Linked DNA regions of Homo sapiens: region 1 is linked to region 2. The links come from fine-mapping of genetic effects on gene expression. Tissue or cell type: spinal cord. Region 2 holds a variant in brackets; the other region holds the start of a gene. All regions are shown on one strand. Distances are from middle to middle.

Evidence for each region. PIP is the estimated chance that this variant, and not a neighbour inherited with it, causes the effect.
Region 1: GPC1 starts here. The variant in region 2 is fine-mapped to the expression of GPC1 in spinal cord (GTEx, PIP 0.97).

Annotation. Positions count from the first base shown.
Region 1 is chr2:240,431,479-240,439,581 of GRCh38, reverse strand. It overlaps GPC1 (glypican 1), which reads right to left and starts at 3,919. Exons shown (of 9, transcript NM_002081.3): 1 at 3,498-3,919. The coding sequence starts at 3,663. RefSeq lists enhancers at 1,417-1,918, 1,970-2,546, 4,280-4,856, 5,256-5,550 and silencers at 3,671-3,730, 3,791-4,450.
Region 2 is chr2:240,189,700-240,197,802 of GRCh38, reverse strand. No RefSeq gene overlaps it. Among named protein-coding and RNA genes, the nearest start is that of OTOS, 53 kb to the right of the region's middle. The variant C/T (reference allele first, on the strand shown) is at 4,689.

The DNA.
Region 1 (8,103 bases), 240 kb before region 2:
GGTCAAAAGTGGCACAGAGAAGAAAAGATTCCTTCGGAGGGGCCCAACGAGTGGGTGCTTGGTACAGGCTCCAGGGCACGCTGGTGCCCGCTCCAGCTGGTAGGCGGGCTGCCACTCTGGGCACAGGAGCGGCTGGGCAGTTTCTGTGCCACCGACAGTCCCATGCCCCACTCTGACTTCTGCCCCCAAAACTAGACCTTAGGGCCCCTCCTCTGCCTCAGGCTGGGAGACCCTGAGAACAGGGGTGTCTGCTCCAAGGAGACCCTCCTCTACCCTCCATGTCCCGCTCCCCACCCAGCACAGCCAGGTATAAAGCCAGGAAGGCCTGGGGGTGTCCTCCGAGAAGCTATCCTGGGCCGGGAGCCAGCCGGGTTCTGTGGCTACAACAGGGAAACAGTTAGAGGTGGTCCCAGCGACCAGGGAGCTCAGGTGCCAAGGTGGGGCGCTGAGACCCCAGCAAAGGAGCAAACAGACACACATCACATCACATCAGACATCAGGAGGCCAGACAGGTGCTCTGGGAACACCTATGCCCAGACACAACCTTGCAAGCAAAAGCAGGAGGCCTGCTGGCACGCGGGCAGTGATTCAGCATGAGGGCTCCTGGCAGCGCAGGGGCACCCGGGGTGCCACTCGGCTCCGCCCTTGCCTTCTGTGCCGTGCCCTGGCATAAAGGGAGGGTGGCCGGGTGCCCTGCTGCAGTGCCACCGTCCAGCTGGTGGCACCCAGGCCTGCTTCCTTGCCCATAAAATGGGATGACCACTGCTGTCACTGCAGCCTGGCCTGGCTGTCCAGAGGACAAAGGAAGTCTCAAAAGGGAGCCCAATATGTCCCGACACTGCCCTCTTTCATGAGCTAAGTCTCCTGTCACCCACTGCCTTTTCTGGTCCCTGGGGCAGAGGCTGGGAAGGCCCGCCACACACCCAGGGCCAACTGCTCTCCTTCCCACGAGGAAGTATCAGATCTCTACCCCACCTGCTCCGGGCCAGCGAGGTGCCCAACCCCAGGGGGTTCGCATTCCCTCTGAGGAGGTCCCCCTGGAGAAGTCTGGATGCAGGAGAGAGGGGACTGAGAATGGTGCCTACTAGGCCACAGAGGGTCCAGGGCTCCTGGGAGGATCTGCCGCCCAGGGGCCACCAGAGGGCGCCCGTTCCACGGAGCCCAGGCCCAGCCGACAAAGCAGGAGGGGACACTGGGCTTGGCTGCCCCAGGACTGCTGCGACCCGAGGGAGTCACCCTGTTTCCCTCAGCCCACGTGGCTCCCACACTGTCTTCTGTACCCTGGGTCCCGAAGGTTACTCCCCACTTCTGCAGCCATAGGGGGTGCAGGGAGAGAGGTTCCTGTCGGAGGGGCACCGACTGGAGAGGCAGTAATCCTGCCCAGTGCAGTCCTGGCCTTGCAAGTCTGGAGGAGGGTGGCACCCCGAGCCCTGGCAGCAGGCACTGGCCCATGGCTGGCACCGTGGTTAGACAGCTGCAGGGCGTTCGTACTCCCCACGCGGGGTGGACAGCATCCCCTGCCCCATCAGACACAGAGAAATCAACACAATCTGCCTGTCCTGGGTCCCTAACCCACTGCATTCCCCAACCCAAGAGCAGCACGACCCACACTCTCTGGCCCAGCCCCACATCAACTTCTCCATCTTGTCCTGCCCTCTCTTCTCACCCTTGGGAGATGGCCAAACTCTGCCACTCTGTCTCTCTAACTGGCAACAGTGGCCTGTGGATGCAAGGAAGGTTAGGTTGGCTCCTAAGGATGCAACTGCCCAGAGGACATGGAGGTGCTAAGAAGGGCTGGGGGCTAATGGTTTCCAAAGGAGCAGGGTTCAAGACTCTGGGCTGGGAGGGGCAGCCACTCAGCCACTCTGCTACCCTGGTGCCTGGGGAGGGATTCACCAGGAAGGCCAGGGATGCCTCTTTATGTGTGAGTAGAGGGGCAGAGAACGAACCCAACTGTGCCGAGGGCCTTGTGCTGCCTGGCATCCAGGTGTGCCCCCTACCTGGGACAGACAGAGCCCAGTGGGGTGAGGGGGGCAGCCTGGAAATGACAGGGTTGCCTCTGCAGAGGCACAGGAAGGCCTGTCCTGGGGACTTTGGAGGGGTCCTTGCAAGAACCTCAGGCTGGTGGGGAGGGCATCGGGAGATCCGCCAAGGGACTGTCTGCGGGTTCTGTTCCTTCTGTGGGGGGCGGTCAGGGGGCCCTTACAAGAACCTCAGGCTGGGGGCATCGGGAGATCCACCAAGGGCAAGGGGCTGTCTGTGGGTTCTGTTCCTCCTGGAGGGGCAGGGGTCCAGAGCCCGACTGCCTCCTCCCACCACTCCGCCCCCCGCGGCAAGGCATGGCCACAGACCCCCCTCACCCAGATGCACGGATCCTTCTTGCTCAGAATCCCCAGGACCATGGGCATTTCTGCGCTGAGTCCCCATCTGAGTAGCCCTCCACCCGCACTCCCACTCCCCTGGTTTCAGAGGAGCCCCCCAGAGCAGGAACCTAGTCTGTTTTGTTCTTGCCCACTGGGTCCCTGGCACGCGGTACAGACCGAGGTTGGTTCCCACACGTGGAAAGGTGAAGCTTGGGTTCCAAGAGTTCCTTAGCACACGGAGCCCACCGTTCCACCCACCCGTACACTTCTGTCCCCAAAGCTCCTCCGGGACCACAGGGAGGGAAGAGGCAGAGCCGCAGGCGGCTGCAGGGCTTAGGGGGCGCCAAGAGGGCCGCTGTTCTTACAAAGAAATGACACGGCCCCTGGGCGGGATCCAACGCGCCGACCACCTGCAGCTGGACTCGCGGCACGAGGCTGCCCAAGCGCCAGGCGGGGGCCGGCGCGTACAAGTTCTTCGACAGGAATCTCTACGAGGCGGCGGCGTTCCGCCCGCGGATAAGTGCCCAGCTCCCTCCCCACCCCTCCGCACTACCCCCCGAGGGGGTCAGCTTATAAAACCCACCTAGGCTGCCTTTGCTGGAGACCCTACGAGAATCCCCGGGCAGGACCGGAGACGCCTCCCAGAGAGGTCTGTACAGAGCAGAAGGGGTCCGCGGCCACCGTCAGCGGCGCCCCGAAAGCCCGGCCACGCCGAGCCCCACAGCGCCCCGACAGCCGGCCCCGGGGCTGGGACTCCCGGCCTGCAGGCGCGCTGGGCCGAGCGGCGGGCAGAAGACGCCCAGCTCCAGCCGTGGCCCGGGAGGAGCGCCCCGAGCCCGCAGCCCGGCGAGATCAGCTCCGCAGGGAAGAAGCCGGCGTGCGGGGGGCGGGGAGGGGCGGAGGACGACCGAGCGGGGCGGAGGAGACCCTGGCGAGGGAGTGCGGCGCGGGGCTTGGAGGCGAGGGCCGTGGGGTTGCAGAGGAGCCGCAGCGCAGGGAGCCATTCGGGGCCCGGGCGGCGGGGCGCAGGCGGCAGGATCCCGCGCCGGGGGCGAGTAGCCGCGTCGGGAAGACCAGGGTCCGGAGCCCAAAGCCCGGCCAGGCCCGGGTTCCCGGCGCCGCGCCCTCACTCACCCGAGATCTCCGCCTGGGGCACGTCGCTCAGGCTGAAGCCCTTGGCTCCGTAGATCTGGCGGACCTCGCCGCAGCTCCGGCTCTTGCTGGCCGGGTCCCCGCGGGCGCAGGCGACCAGCGCTGCGGCCGCACATAGCAGCCACCAGCCTCGGGCCCGGAGCTCCATGGCGGGGCCGGCGGCGCCCCCGGCCACCCGCCCGCGCCTCTCTCGGATCCTGGCCGGGTCCTGCGCAGTTCCCGCCCGCGAAGGGCAGAGCCAAGGTCCCGGCGCGCGCGGCTCGCGGTCCAGAGGCGGCGGCGGCCGAGGAGGCGGAGACAACAAAAGCCGGCGGCGGCGGCGGCGCGGGGCGCGCGGGGTGCGAGGTCCGAACGCTCGCTCGGGCAGCCCAGAGCGCGGCGGGCTAGCGCAGTCCCGGCTCGGCGCCTCCCCCGCCGCCGGCCCGGCCCCTAGGCGGCCGCGGGAGAGGAGAGGGGCGGGGCAGGGTGGGAGCGCAGGGGTGGGGGAGGGACTGGGAGCACCGGGCGGGGCGGGGCGGGGCGCGGCGCGGGGGCGCGGGCCGGGGCGCACTGGGCGCTCCTCTGGCTCTTAGGGACCCAGAGGGCCCGCCTGGCCGCGCGACTCTATCGATCCCCGGCGGGAGGCGGCGGAGCCGGGCAGCGCGGGGCCGCGGCCGGGGTCCCCGAGGGCGGCCCCCCACGCCCAGCGCCCAGGGCGGTGGCACCACCTGTGGGGGCGGGGACGGGGGCGGAGGGTGCGCGAGGCAGGGCTTCCCCCGCCGGACGTGACATCACGCCTCCCGCGCCCCAATCAGGGGCCTCCCCGCCCCCAGCCGAAATCGGCATCCCGCTCCCCGCTCCCTCCCGCGCGCTCCGGCTTCCTGCACCCTGGCAGCGCGCCCCGAGAACGCTCTCCCGGCGCCTCCGTACCCTCCGCCCGCCGGCCGCGCCTCGAGCCGCCGCCCCTCTCCCCGCCTGCACCCCGCAGCGGCTCCCTCCCCGCGCCCTTCCAGCCGTCTCGCGCTGGGCTCCGGCTCGCACCGGGGGCTTTTGTGGTGTGGGGGCTGCACGCAGGAAACTCGCCAAGAAACTCGACCTCACCTCTCCCAGTCCCAGGGAGCGGCAACAGATGGCTTAATTGTTGGACCTTGACAGCTGTTTTGGGGGGGTGACCCTCCACGTTCTTTGGATGCTGGAGAAACCAAAGTGATGGGGCAGGGCCGGTCTACTGGTTTGGGCTGCTGGGTGGGGCCAGATGACCTCTGGAGAAGGGATAGGGTTGGAACCCGGCGACTAGTTAGGCCACTGGGGGAGGAGGGTGGAGTGAGCCGGAGCAGATGCCTCTTTGAAGAAGGCGGGAGGGCTGCCTGCACCTTGTATGGTAGGAGGGCGCGTGGCTTTAGCTGCACATGGGGAGTTGGGCTGGATGGGGTCTGTAGGGAGGGGGCGAGGACTGCGATGTTGGTGTCTGGAGGGCTTCACTCCTTCCTTGGCTCCCAGACCCCCCACCCCGGCCCCCTGTTCTCCACATGGTAAGGCCTGGCGGTGAAGCCAGGTGCCTGAGCTGCAGAATTGGGGGCAGGCATAGAGGTCAGTATCCTTGGCAGAGAACCTCAAGATGACCCCCATGTACAGCAAGGGTGTCCTGATTTCAGGGCCTGTGGCATCACCTGGAAGCTGCAGCGGGGTCCGTGGTGGGGGTGGTGGCAACATTCCCTACCCCTTCTGTGCCTGGGGCTCTCAGCCGCTGTGTGGGGCTGGAGCAGGAAGGTGGGGTGCCCTCCCCCTGGGCTCTTGGGGTTTCCTGCCCTGCCTCCCAGAGAAGGTTGCTCCTTCACCCAGAGACACTGAGTCATTGCTGGAGAGGGAGGCTTTGGGGACCCAATCCAAGTGTGCATTTCCCTGCCCTCCCCCACATACCCTCTGCTGCGTCACATTTTGTGACTCACAGACCCCTGTTCAGTACATGCTCCAGGCTTGCTCCTTCTTGCCTGGGCCTGGCGTGGCTGCCTGCACACCTTATCCAGCACGGTCAGGAGCCTGGGCCCACGATCCCGCTCTCTCTCTGTGTGGTCTCACGCACTGCGGGATCAGGCAGGGCTGCCTGGGCCTAGGAAGCTGGACTTGAGGTTAACCCGGCCTGAGGCTCTATAGTTACCCCGTCACTGTCTACGCCTCCTCTTAATCTGACCAGGTTGGGTTATTCCTCCAGGCAAGTCCTTCCTCCAGCCTAGTTCTGGGCCTCTGGATGGCAGTGTGGACAGCAGGGCTTAGAACGCGATGGTGGCAGCCTCTGCCTGGCCCTGGTGACCCCTGGGTGGCTTCATCTCCTAAGGAAGTCCTTACCACCATCGCAGGTCCTGGAATCATTCCCATTCCGCAGGCCAGGAGACCTGTAGCCAGGGCCTTCCCTGGAGAGGATGCACATGCCGCCGGGGGCATTGGAAGCAAAAGCCGTGTTTGCACCTGGGAGGAGCCGCAGGATCCTGAGCAGCTGCAGCTACCCCTGCTTCCCTCCTGGCAATGCTGCACACGCCCGCTGTCACCAGGGCAGGAGCCGCCAGGCTGCCCGTGCTAGTCGGGTGCAGGGTCCAGACTGGGACTCTGGGAGGATGGGCAAGGCTGATCAGCCCCCTCTTCCACCGCTGTCCCTGGGGCCGCTCCACACAGGACACGTGGATGGGTTTGAGGACATAGTTGATGCCTCGAATCCCAGCCACCACAGTGACCCTTGTGGCTCTGACCAAGACCACCCCCTCCTGCTTTGGTGTCTTTGCCTGGCTAGACAGTGGGGGCACACGTATGCGACACAAAGAAGGAATGAATGAGCAAGTGAGGAAACACCTGAGAGGAAAAGTTTGTCCCTGAGAGTGGGCGTGTGGCGCAGCCTGGACCTGCTCTTCCACAGGTGCAGTGAGGGCAGAGGACACTTAGCATTGTCTGACGGGCTGAGGCAGGCAGTGCCTGTTGGGCCAGGGCGTGGGGGCCTCCCTTCCATGCCCCCATCTTCTGTGGAGGACCCCAGGTCCTGGAGGGCGTGTACTGCTGGCTTAGGGCCCACTCCTGCCTCTGCCTAGGGAGGGTGGGGGTCTGCGGGATGCTGAGCCTGGTCTCTGCTCAGAAGACACAGGGAGCGCCGGGGGGCCCGCAGCTCCCAGCCGTTCGGACGGCAGGTCTGCCCAGAAATTATCCTACTTTTGCTCCGTGGAACCCTCGTGAGTGTGCACGCCCTTGCCCGCTGCCATGGACGGACAGCTTCCCTTTCTGTTTGGTTTCAGGGATTGTCTTTCGGAGACTCCAAAAGTAAGTTTCCAAACAGACTGAGCGATTGTTGTCGCTGCCATCCATGGCTGCCTTCTTGTGAATGTCACTGCCTGTAGCATCCCTACCTACGAGAGCCCTGTCCTACTGGCCGTGGGAGGCAGGAGTGCGCGCGTGTGCCTGCAGACAGCAGGGGTTCAAGGGCGTGGACTAGGGCTGGCTGGGATGTGGCATCTGATCTGTTAGAGCACCCAGGAGGTGTTTTGGTGCCCTGGGGCATAGTGGAGGATGTAGGGTCCCCACACCTCTGTGGGGGTCTGGGGACCCCTTGGGCAGCAGCCTGAAGGAGGAAGTGGATACCCCAGCATGTGGCTGATGAAGGGAACATGGTCCCCAGGAGTGGCTGGCAGCCCTGGGCAGAGCAGGGTGGGCAGGACAGCCTGCCTGCAGAGCTGGAGATCTTTCTGCAAATGGTAATCAGGGTGCCTGCCAGAAAGAAGCGGGGCTCTGGGCAGCTCTACAGGGCTTAGCGATGGGGAGGGGATCTGCCCCAGGGCCTGCTCTGGCCCATGGACTCCACCTCCAGCTCACCCCGTGCTTCCTGCCCTGCCTTTTGGTGGTGACACTTGGGGAACATTCATCCGGTCTCTCATTCTGGTGCTGGCTCAGGGAGCCGCTGTCATCTCATGAAGGAGCTCGGCTCCAGACGACCCTGCAGGATTGTACTCGTGTGGGGTCTGTGAGGTGGGGTGCTGGTCCCTGCTCTGCCTGGACACTCAGTGGTACCCTGGAAGGTCTTCCAGCCCTGAGCCAGGACCCTAATCTACAGGAGTTCGGCTTTGAGTCTGAACCCTAGGGCTGCCCTGGCTTCCCCAACTTAGGGGCTGCCACTGGGCAGTGAGGGTGGGTGGACAAGGGCGCCAGCTGGGCAGAGTTTGCAGGACTGAGAAAACCTGGCACCATTATTCTCAAAGGAGGTCATACCTGCACCTCCCTCCACCTCTCTCCAAGCCCCTGCCGTGGGGCAGTCAACTTGAAGGTGAAGCTGTTTGGAGCCTGCTCTGCTCTGCTGGGTCCTTTTGATCAGCAGAAGTCTGGGCTGGCCTCCCTTATCCAGGTCAGAGGAGAGCAAGCCTTTTCAGTGAGGCTGGGTCACCCGTGTGGTAGGTGGGGTCAGAAGAATGCACCTGTGGCCCCTCCAAGAGCTGGCACCTGTTTCTCTAGTCTGAGGACCCTGGTAGCAAGAGATGACCCCAAACACTCCACTCTGGGCTGAGCTGGGTTTGGCCTTCCCTGTGGCTGTTTTCCTGCCCCTCCCCACCCTGACTCTTGGCCTGGTCTCCTTGAG
Region 2 (8,103 bases):
ATGAGTAGTGATGGGCAGTGATGGATGGTGATGGACAGTAATGGTCGGTGATGGACAGTGATGAGTAGTGATGGGTGGTGATGGACAGTGATGGACAGTGATGAGTAGTGATGGGCGGTGATGGACAGTGATGGATGGTGATGAGCACAGACAGGGCATGACTCGCTCAGCCCCTTTCCTTGTCGCAGCACCATGAAGCCTGTGAAGACTGTGAGCCTGGCCAGGAGCTGCTGTGTATCCACCTCCACTATCAGGCATTGCCACTACTCTGGTGGACCTAGCTTGACCTGGGGCTGCAGGGCATGGAACAGAGAGAGGCCTGGAGTAAGGGTCCAGGCAAACTCAGAAGACAGGCCAGTTCCCAAGCAGCTGGCAGGGAGGGACAGAGGAGAAGCAAGACCCAAGGACACACCCAGCACAAGGACAGGATGGGGTGTGGGCCTGTGGGCAGCAGGAGTCTGGTCTCGGGCACTCTTGGCGTCTGGCAAGTCACTGCCCCAGCTGGGAACAGAGGCAGGCCGGGGCAGGGGAGGTCCTAGAGCTGCCAGCTGGTTCATATTTCATCCTCCCTGAAGCCCCATCCTCAGTCCCAGCTGGTCCAGCAGAGGACCAGACAGCTGAAGACGTCAGCAAACTCAAAGCCAGCATGAGTGGAGGGGGCTTCCGCACAGGCTCCTCCAACCTTGTGGGCTCTCCCTTGTGGGATCCTTGTGGGATCTCCCTTGTGGGATTCTCACCCCTAGCAGTGGCTGATCACTGTTGCAAGGTATTCTGTGCACCTGAACTGCCCAGTGTGAGCCAGATGCCCCGCCCTGGAGCAGAGCCACAGCCAGCCCCTGACCCCTGCACTTCAGCCTGGAGACAGAGACAGGCAGGTGGGCTGCAGGGGTTCACAGTAGGGTGTGGAAAGCTCCAGAACAGATTCAGGCATTATCCTCGCACCGTTCTGGAGGCCACAAGGCCGAAATCAAGGTGCCAGCAGGGCTGTGCTCCCTCCAGAGGCTCTAAAGGAGGAGCTTTCCTGCCTCTTCCAGGTTCTGGTGGCCCCTGGCTTCCTTGGCTTGTGGCCGTGTTGCTCTAAACTCTGCTTCCGTCTTCACATGGCCTCTCCTCTGTGTGTCTGTGTCTCTCCCCATCTTATAAGGACACTCGCCATTGGATCTAGGGACCACCCTAAATCTAAGATGATTTCGTCTCAAGATTCTTCACTAATTACATCTACAAAGACCCTATTCCAAATACAGTTGCACCGTGGGGTTCTGGGTAAATGCTGCTATTCAACCCACTTCTGGTCATGCAGAAGAGCGCAGGCAGGAGGAATGGCCTGGCTAGGGGCAGGGCTCAGGCCCTGTGCTCTCTGCTTATGCCTGAAGAAGCAGCACGGGAAGAGGGAGCTTTTCTCTTCCATCAGAGACAATTTTAACAAAGAAAATCAGAGGGGATGTGAATAACTTCCGAAATTTATCAAATTAATAGGCACATGGAAGCCCAGCTTGCAAAAAAATTCATTTCAAATCCTCTAAATCTTAACTGTCACATTCACCGAGTTTCCAGGGGCTAAATGCTGAATGCTAATACCATTTCCAGTATTCGCAATCCAATCTTAATTAAATCTGCACCACACTGAATTACTTTAACTATGATTTTCCAGTGGAAGGTATTGTGAGAAGTGTATTCTCTCTTATTTTAATCAGATTTCATAATTTTCAAGTGGACATGCTGGTGGAAAGACTGTTTGTTTAGAGATTGAGTTGGGAGAAGTCTCTCCAAATCTCATCAGTGGCTTTCACAAAGAAAGAGGAGGGTGTCTTTAATAAGACCGACTCCTTCTACGGGTTAAAAAGTCAACAGTACGCCAAAGTATGGGAGAAGATATTTGCAATGCACATAATGACAAAAGATATTCAAAGACAAATAATAAACGTAAAGCCAGACAACCCAATGGAAAAATGGGGAAACGCTTGAACAGACACTTCACGGAGAACAAGTCCAGTTGCAGACGGATCATGGGGCATGTGCCTCCTCGATGGCAATCACAGAATTGCACCCTGCAGTAGCTACTGCCATGCTCAGCTCAGATTCACTTAACTGGCTGCCATTTCCACCCCTGGCAGCAGCTTGTACTGGCCAACAACTCACAGCTGACACTCCTGGAAATAATTGCCCTTGGCCCAGCAGAAGCCACTTCATCAAGGGGCTGTGTCCCGCACCCAGGGCAGACCAAGGACAAGGACTAGCTGGCATGAGGATACTACAGGGCAGCCCCTGCCTCACAGCAGGGCCGAGTCCCGGGTGCATTCACACTCCAGAGCTCCCATGGAGTCGGGCTTGAGGTGAACTCCAGCTGAGGTCAGCTTCTGCCCCTTATTGCTTGATTCACCTGCTGTCTCCTGAGAGTCAGTTGAATAAGAACCCTCGTCTCAGGCTCTGCTTACGGGGACACCAGTCCCAGGACACCAGTTAGGATGATTACTGTTAAAAACAACAACAGCAAACCCTCAAAAGCAAACAAGCCCAGAAGGTAATAAGCATTGGCAAGAATGTGGAGACATTGGAACCCAGTGCACTGCGGGTGAGAATGTAAAATGGTGCAGCAACTGTAAAAAAAGGTCCTCAAACAATTAATCAGAGAACTACCATACCACCATCAATCCCGCTTCTGGACATATACTCAAAAATATGAAACAGGAGCTCAAACAGATATTGGTACACCCATGTTCACAGCAGCGCTACTCACAGCACCTAAAAGACGTAAGTAACCCGCTTGCCCACTGAGGAATGAGTGGATAGGTGTGGAGCACACATACCATGCTGTCTCAGTCCGTTTTGTGTTGCCATCACAGAATACCCGAGGCTGGGTAATTTACAAAGAACAGAGGTTTATTTGGCTCACGATTCTGGTGGCTCCAAAGCCTAAAATTAGGCAGATGTATCTGGTAGGGGGCTCATGCTGCTTCCTCTCATGATGGAAAGTGGAAGGGGGGATGAGCAAAGAGATCACCTGGTGAGAGAGGAAGCAAGAGAGAGCTGAGGAAGCCAGACTCGCTTTGACCACAGCCCGCTCTCTGGTAACTAATCCAGTTTTGGAAGGGCAAGCACTCACACACTCCGGAGAGAGAGCGTTAATCTGTTTATGCGAGATCTGACCCCATGACCCAAACACCCCCCACTACGCTCCACCTTCCAACACTGCCCCACAATGGATGCAATTTCAACACTACGCTCCACCTCCCAACACTGCCCCACAATGGATGCAATTTCAACACTACGCTCCACCTCCCAACACTGCCCCACAATGGATGCAATTTCAACACTACGCTCCAACTCCCAACACTGCCCCACAGCGGATTAAATTTCAACATGACTTTTGGTGGAAACAAGCCACATCCAAGCCATAGCAAATGGGCTATTCCTCAGCCTACAAAAGGATGGAAATTCTGATACATCATACAACATGGATGAACCTTGAAGAATTATGCTAAATGAAATAAGCCATTTATAAAAGGACATTTACCGCTTCATGATTTTGTTGATGATATTCCTGGAGTAGTTACATTCATGGAGAAAGAAAGTGGAATGGTGAGTGCCAGGGGCTGTGTTTAGTGGCTGCAGAGTTTCAGCTTTTTAAGATGAAGAGTTCTGGAGATGGAGGGTGATGGCTGCACAGCACTGTGAATGTACTTAGTGCCACCAAAGTGTACACTTAAAAAGGTTAAAATGAGGCTGGGCGCGGTGGCTCATGCCTGTAATCCCAGCACTTTGGGAGGCTGAGGCAGGCGGATCACGAGGTCAGGAGATCAAGACCTTCCTGGCTAACAGGGTGAAACCCCATCTCTACTAAAAATAAAAAATTAGCCAGGTGTGGTGGCGCGCAACTCTAATCCCAGCTACTCGGGAGAGAATCACTTGAACCAGGGAGTCAGGTTGCAGAGAGCCAAGATCGCCCCACTGCACTCCAGCCTGGTGACAGAGCGAGACTCCTCAAAAAAAAAGGTTAAAATGGTAAATTTTATTTTAGGTGCATTTTACCTCAATGGAAAATGTTTCAAATGAAAACAAAATAAAAATTCACCTCCAACCAATCTACTGAATGGCTAGAATTTGAAAGGCCAACACATGAGCTGCTGCAAGGCTGGAGAAAGGAAGTTTCAGACACCACAGGTGAGGGCACATCGCTTTGGCTTTATCTAGAAAAATTGAGGTTACACGGGCTCTATGGCCCCGCAATGGCACTTCTGACCATCCACCTACAGAGACACATGCCCTGAGCCCGGGGTACATTTACAGGAATGCTCGCGGCTGTACTGTGTGCAATTATCAAAAATGGGAATCTCAAACAGAGTGAATATCTAGTTCTGGTAAAGTGGGCGCATATTCAATTGAATATTATACTGCAGTAAAAACAAACAGCTATAATCACATGCTTCCACATAGATACGTCTCCCAAACGTATCTATGAGAGTAAGAAGAAAGACACAAAAGATTAAATAAGGAATGAAGCTTTTTTTTTTTTTTCTTGAGACAGAGTCTTGCTCTGTCACCCAGGCTGGAGTGCTGTGGCGAAATCTTGGCTTATTGCAACCTCCGCCTCCCGGGTTCAAACAATTCTCATGCCTCAGCCTCCCGAGTAGCTGGGATTACAAGCGTGCACCACTACGCCCAGCTAATTTTTGTATATTTAGTAGAGA[C/T]GGGGTTTCACCATGTTGGTCAGGCTGTTCTCAAACTCCTGACCTAGTGATCCACCCACCTTGGCCTCCCAAAGTGCTGGGATTATAGGCATGAGGAAATGAAGCTTTTCATATAAAATTTCTGCCACATTGTTTCAGGATGCAAATGGAAGTGGAAAAACTTTAGAAAAACAATGATGTGGTTGTTCCAAAAGTTAAAGGACAGCTGCCACCAGGCACAGGGTGCCGCTGTGAATTGAGAGAGGCAGGCAGTGGAGAGCGAGGGCATCTGGGGAGATGGACTGGCGGGTTCTGAGATTCTAGCCATGTTCGAGGACTTGACCTGGGAGGTAGGCTCGTGGGTGTTTATTTATAATGGTTGTATACAATTATGTAATATAAACTTCTCAGTGTCAACAACAATAAACAAAGATCAATTTTATTCCAAACCATTTCCTTTGTTTACAGCTTATCTTTTACAAATAGTTTCCATTAAAGAAATCCATGCAGATCCTTCTGTAGTCGGCTGTGTCATATGAGAACAAATATTCAGACGACTGCGCCAATCTGATGCTAGGTCGCCACACGGTGCAAAGCGCACACACCCGTGTGGTCCATAAAGGATGCACAGGCGGTGCCTGAAGGTCATTCGCAGTCTTGAGTGTTGGCCACTCCAATGTCTTGGCTTTGAGGAACAGGATCATGACTGTATTCGTCAGTTCTTGCACTGCTATAAATAAATACCTCCGACTGGGTAACTTATAAAGAAAAGAGGTTTAACTGGATCAGAGTTCTGCAGGCTGTAAGGAAGCATGACAGCTTCTGGGGAGGCCTCAGGAAACTTTCAGTCGTGGTAGAGGGCAAAGAGAAAGCAGGCACGCCTTACATGGCCAGAGCGGGAGGTGGTGGGGGGGTGGATGCCACACACATTGAAATGACCAGATCTCATGAGAACTCATTCACTGTCATGAGAACAGCACCCAAGTGTATGGTGTTCAACCATTAGAAACCACCCCTCTAATCCAATCACTTCCCACCACGCCGCATCTCCAACACTGAGGATTACAACTGAACACAAGATGTGGGTGCACGCAGAGCCAAACTGTATCAGCTACTGGATCCTCACCATTGTCCATTTAAAAAATAGTCTATTTCCAGTAAAACAGGTGTAAAACAAAACTAGAATTTGCAAGGAAATAAAATAACATCCTTCTCCAAACTTGTTTCTAGGAGAAAGCAGAAGACATTGGCAGCTGGTGGAGAGACACGTGTAGACATGTAGGGGCTTCGGGGTCTCTCCTCAAAGGACAACAGGTGCAGAGTGGCCGGCACTTGGGAACTTTGCCTTCACATTGACCTGGGCAAAGGGCTGCCCACAGCCCTATTCTGATGCCTGCTGTGCATGACAGAGACGGAGAAAGAAGGAAGAAGGGGAAGGGGAGAAAGGGGAGAAAGTGTTTTCTGTTCACAGGTGGGAAAAGAGGAGACAGGAGCTTCGATGAGGCTGCTGTCATGAGTGATACATACAGGGATGACCAGAGCTGGAATAAACTGAGGTGAGAATGACAAATATCAGAGGTGGCTGTGCGCAGGTACCTCTGGAAAGGAGAAAGGGCTTGGTGTGGAGCAGGCCTATCAGCTATGGCTTCAGACTTCGGGGAGGGGAGGTCCTTGCAGGTCTATTTCCTCCTCTGGGCCTCTCTCCCGCATCCTCTTCTCTCTCCTCTCTTTGCCGAATTCCACTCCAGCTCTCAGCTTGGACACCACCCCTCAGGGAGCCTTTCCTGCCTTCCCCACGGCACCCACGCTTGACACGCTGATGTCTGTCTTCCCTGAAGCTGCTGTCTTGTCCCTGCTGCTCTGCAGGCCGCTAGCAACCAGCATGGACCGGAACCACTGCTCCAGCGCCAAGGCGGTGCTCAGCAAGTGTCGGCTGAATGAGGGGATGAGGAATGGTGTGCTTGAATGACCGTGGGTCCTGGGTGAGCCGCCAGGGATGCGACAAACCTAGAACCCCTGGGTGACCCCTCCTATGTTGGGTGGGCTGGTCCCAGAGCCACCCAGATGCCCCAAGACCCCCGCCGCCGACTTTGGGGGATGGGAGGGAATGGGAAGGGTGGGGAATGGGGGCCGTGGACTCCACATCATATCCACGGGTAAAATGTTCTCAAGGAACAGTTTGTTTTCATTTCAAAGGCTCATCCAATATATCGGGTCAAGGTTTATCAGAAAATTTTCTGAGATCTTACTGTTTTCCCTATATCGGAAAGAATTTCCAAAAAATAGTGTTTTAAAGATGTGTAATTGTCACTGGAGTGAGGTGGAGCCACGTCCAGGAGGGCGGGTGGCAGTTTCCGGGCAGAAGTCAGGGCCTCAGCCTGGATGCATTCTTGCCTCCCCCAAGATGCTGAAATGCTTGCCCATTCCAGCCTCCGAGGAAAGCAGGAGACCCACAGGAAGGGTGGCTCCCTGCCTGCCTTCCACCACCTCCCTGCTATAAACAAAAAGGTCTCAATCAATTTAGGAAGTCTATTTTGCCAAGGTTAGGGACGCGCCTGTGACACAGCCTCAGGAGGTCCTGACGACATGCACCCAAGGTGATGGGGCACAGCTTGGTTTGATACATTTTAGGGAGATGTGAGACCTCAATCAATGTATGTAAGATGAACATTGGTTTGGTCTGGAAAGGCGGGGACAACTCGAAACAGGGAGGAGGCTTCCAGGTCATAGGAAGATAAAGAGACAAACGGTTGCATTCTTTTGAATTTCTGATCAGCCTTTCTAAAGGGAGCAATCAGATACGCATTCGTCTCAGTGAGCAGAAGGGTGACTTTTGAGTTCTGTCTGTCCTTTGTCTGCAAGGAACTTCCTTGTGGACAAATTGTGAGGGAGGTGTGTAGCTTTTTTATCTTAGTAGGTATCTCTTTTAGGAATAGAATGGGAGGCAGGTTTGCCCTAACCAGTTCCCATCTTGACCTTTCCCTTTGGCTTAGTGACTTGGGGAGTCCCAAGATTTATTTTCCTTTCACACTGGGCTGCCCTGTCTTACTCAGAACCAGCCTGCCTCCACCCCCAACCCAGCACACCTGTGTCCTCTCCTCTTCTGGCCAGAGGGTATGGTGGGAATGTGAACCCTGGCCCAGGTCAGGCCCAACCAGGCCCTGGTGGCCTCTGCAGGGACAGGCTCCCTGTACAGGGAACTGGGGAATGCTGGCCCGGCAGACAAGCCCATCTGTACTGTGCACTTTTATGGGGCGTTGAGGGAGCTAGCTCTGAGTGAAGCTCTCCCAGGCCCCAGCCATCCCTACCACCTGTCCCACCACACCCGAGCTGCCCACATTCCCAAGCCCTGAGCCTCCACCCTGGACTTGGCCTTGACTGGTGAATAAATCGCAGGCTGTGCAGTCTGCCTGACCACCATACCCTGAGATGGAGG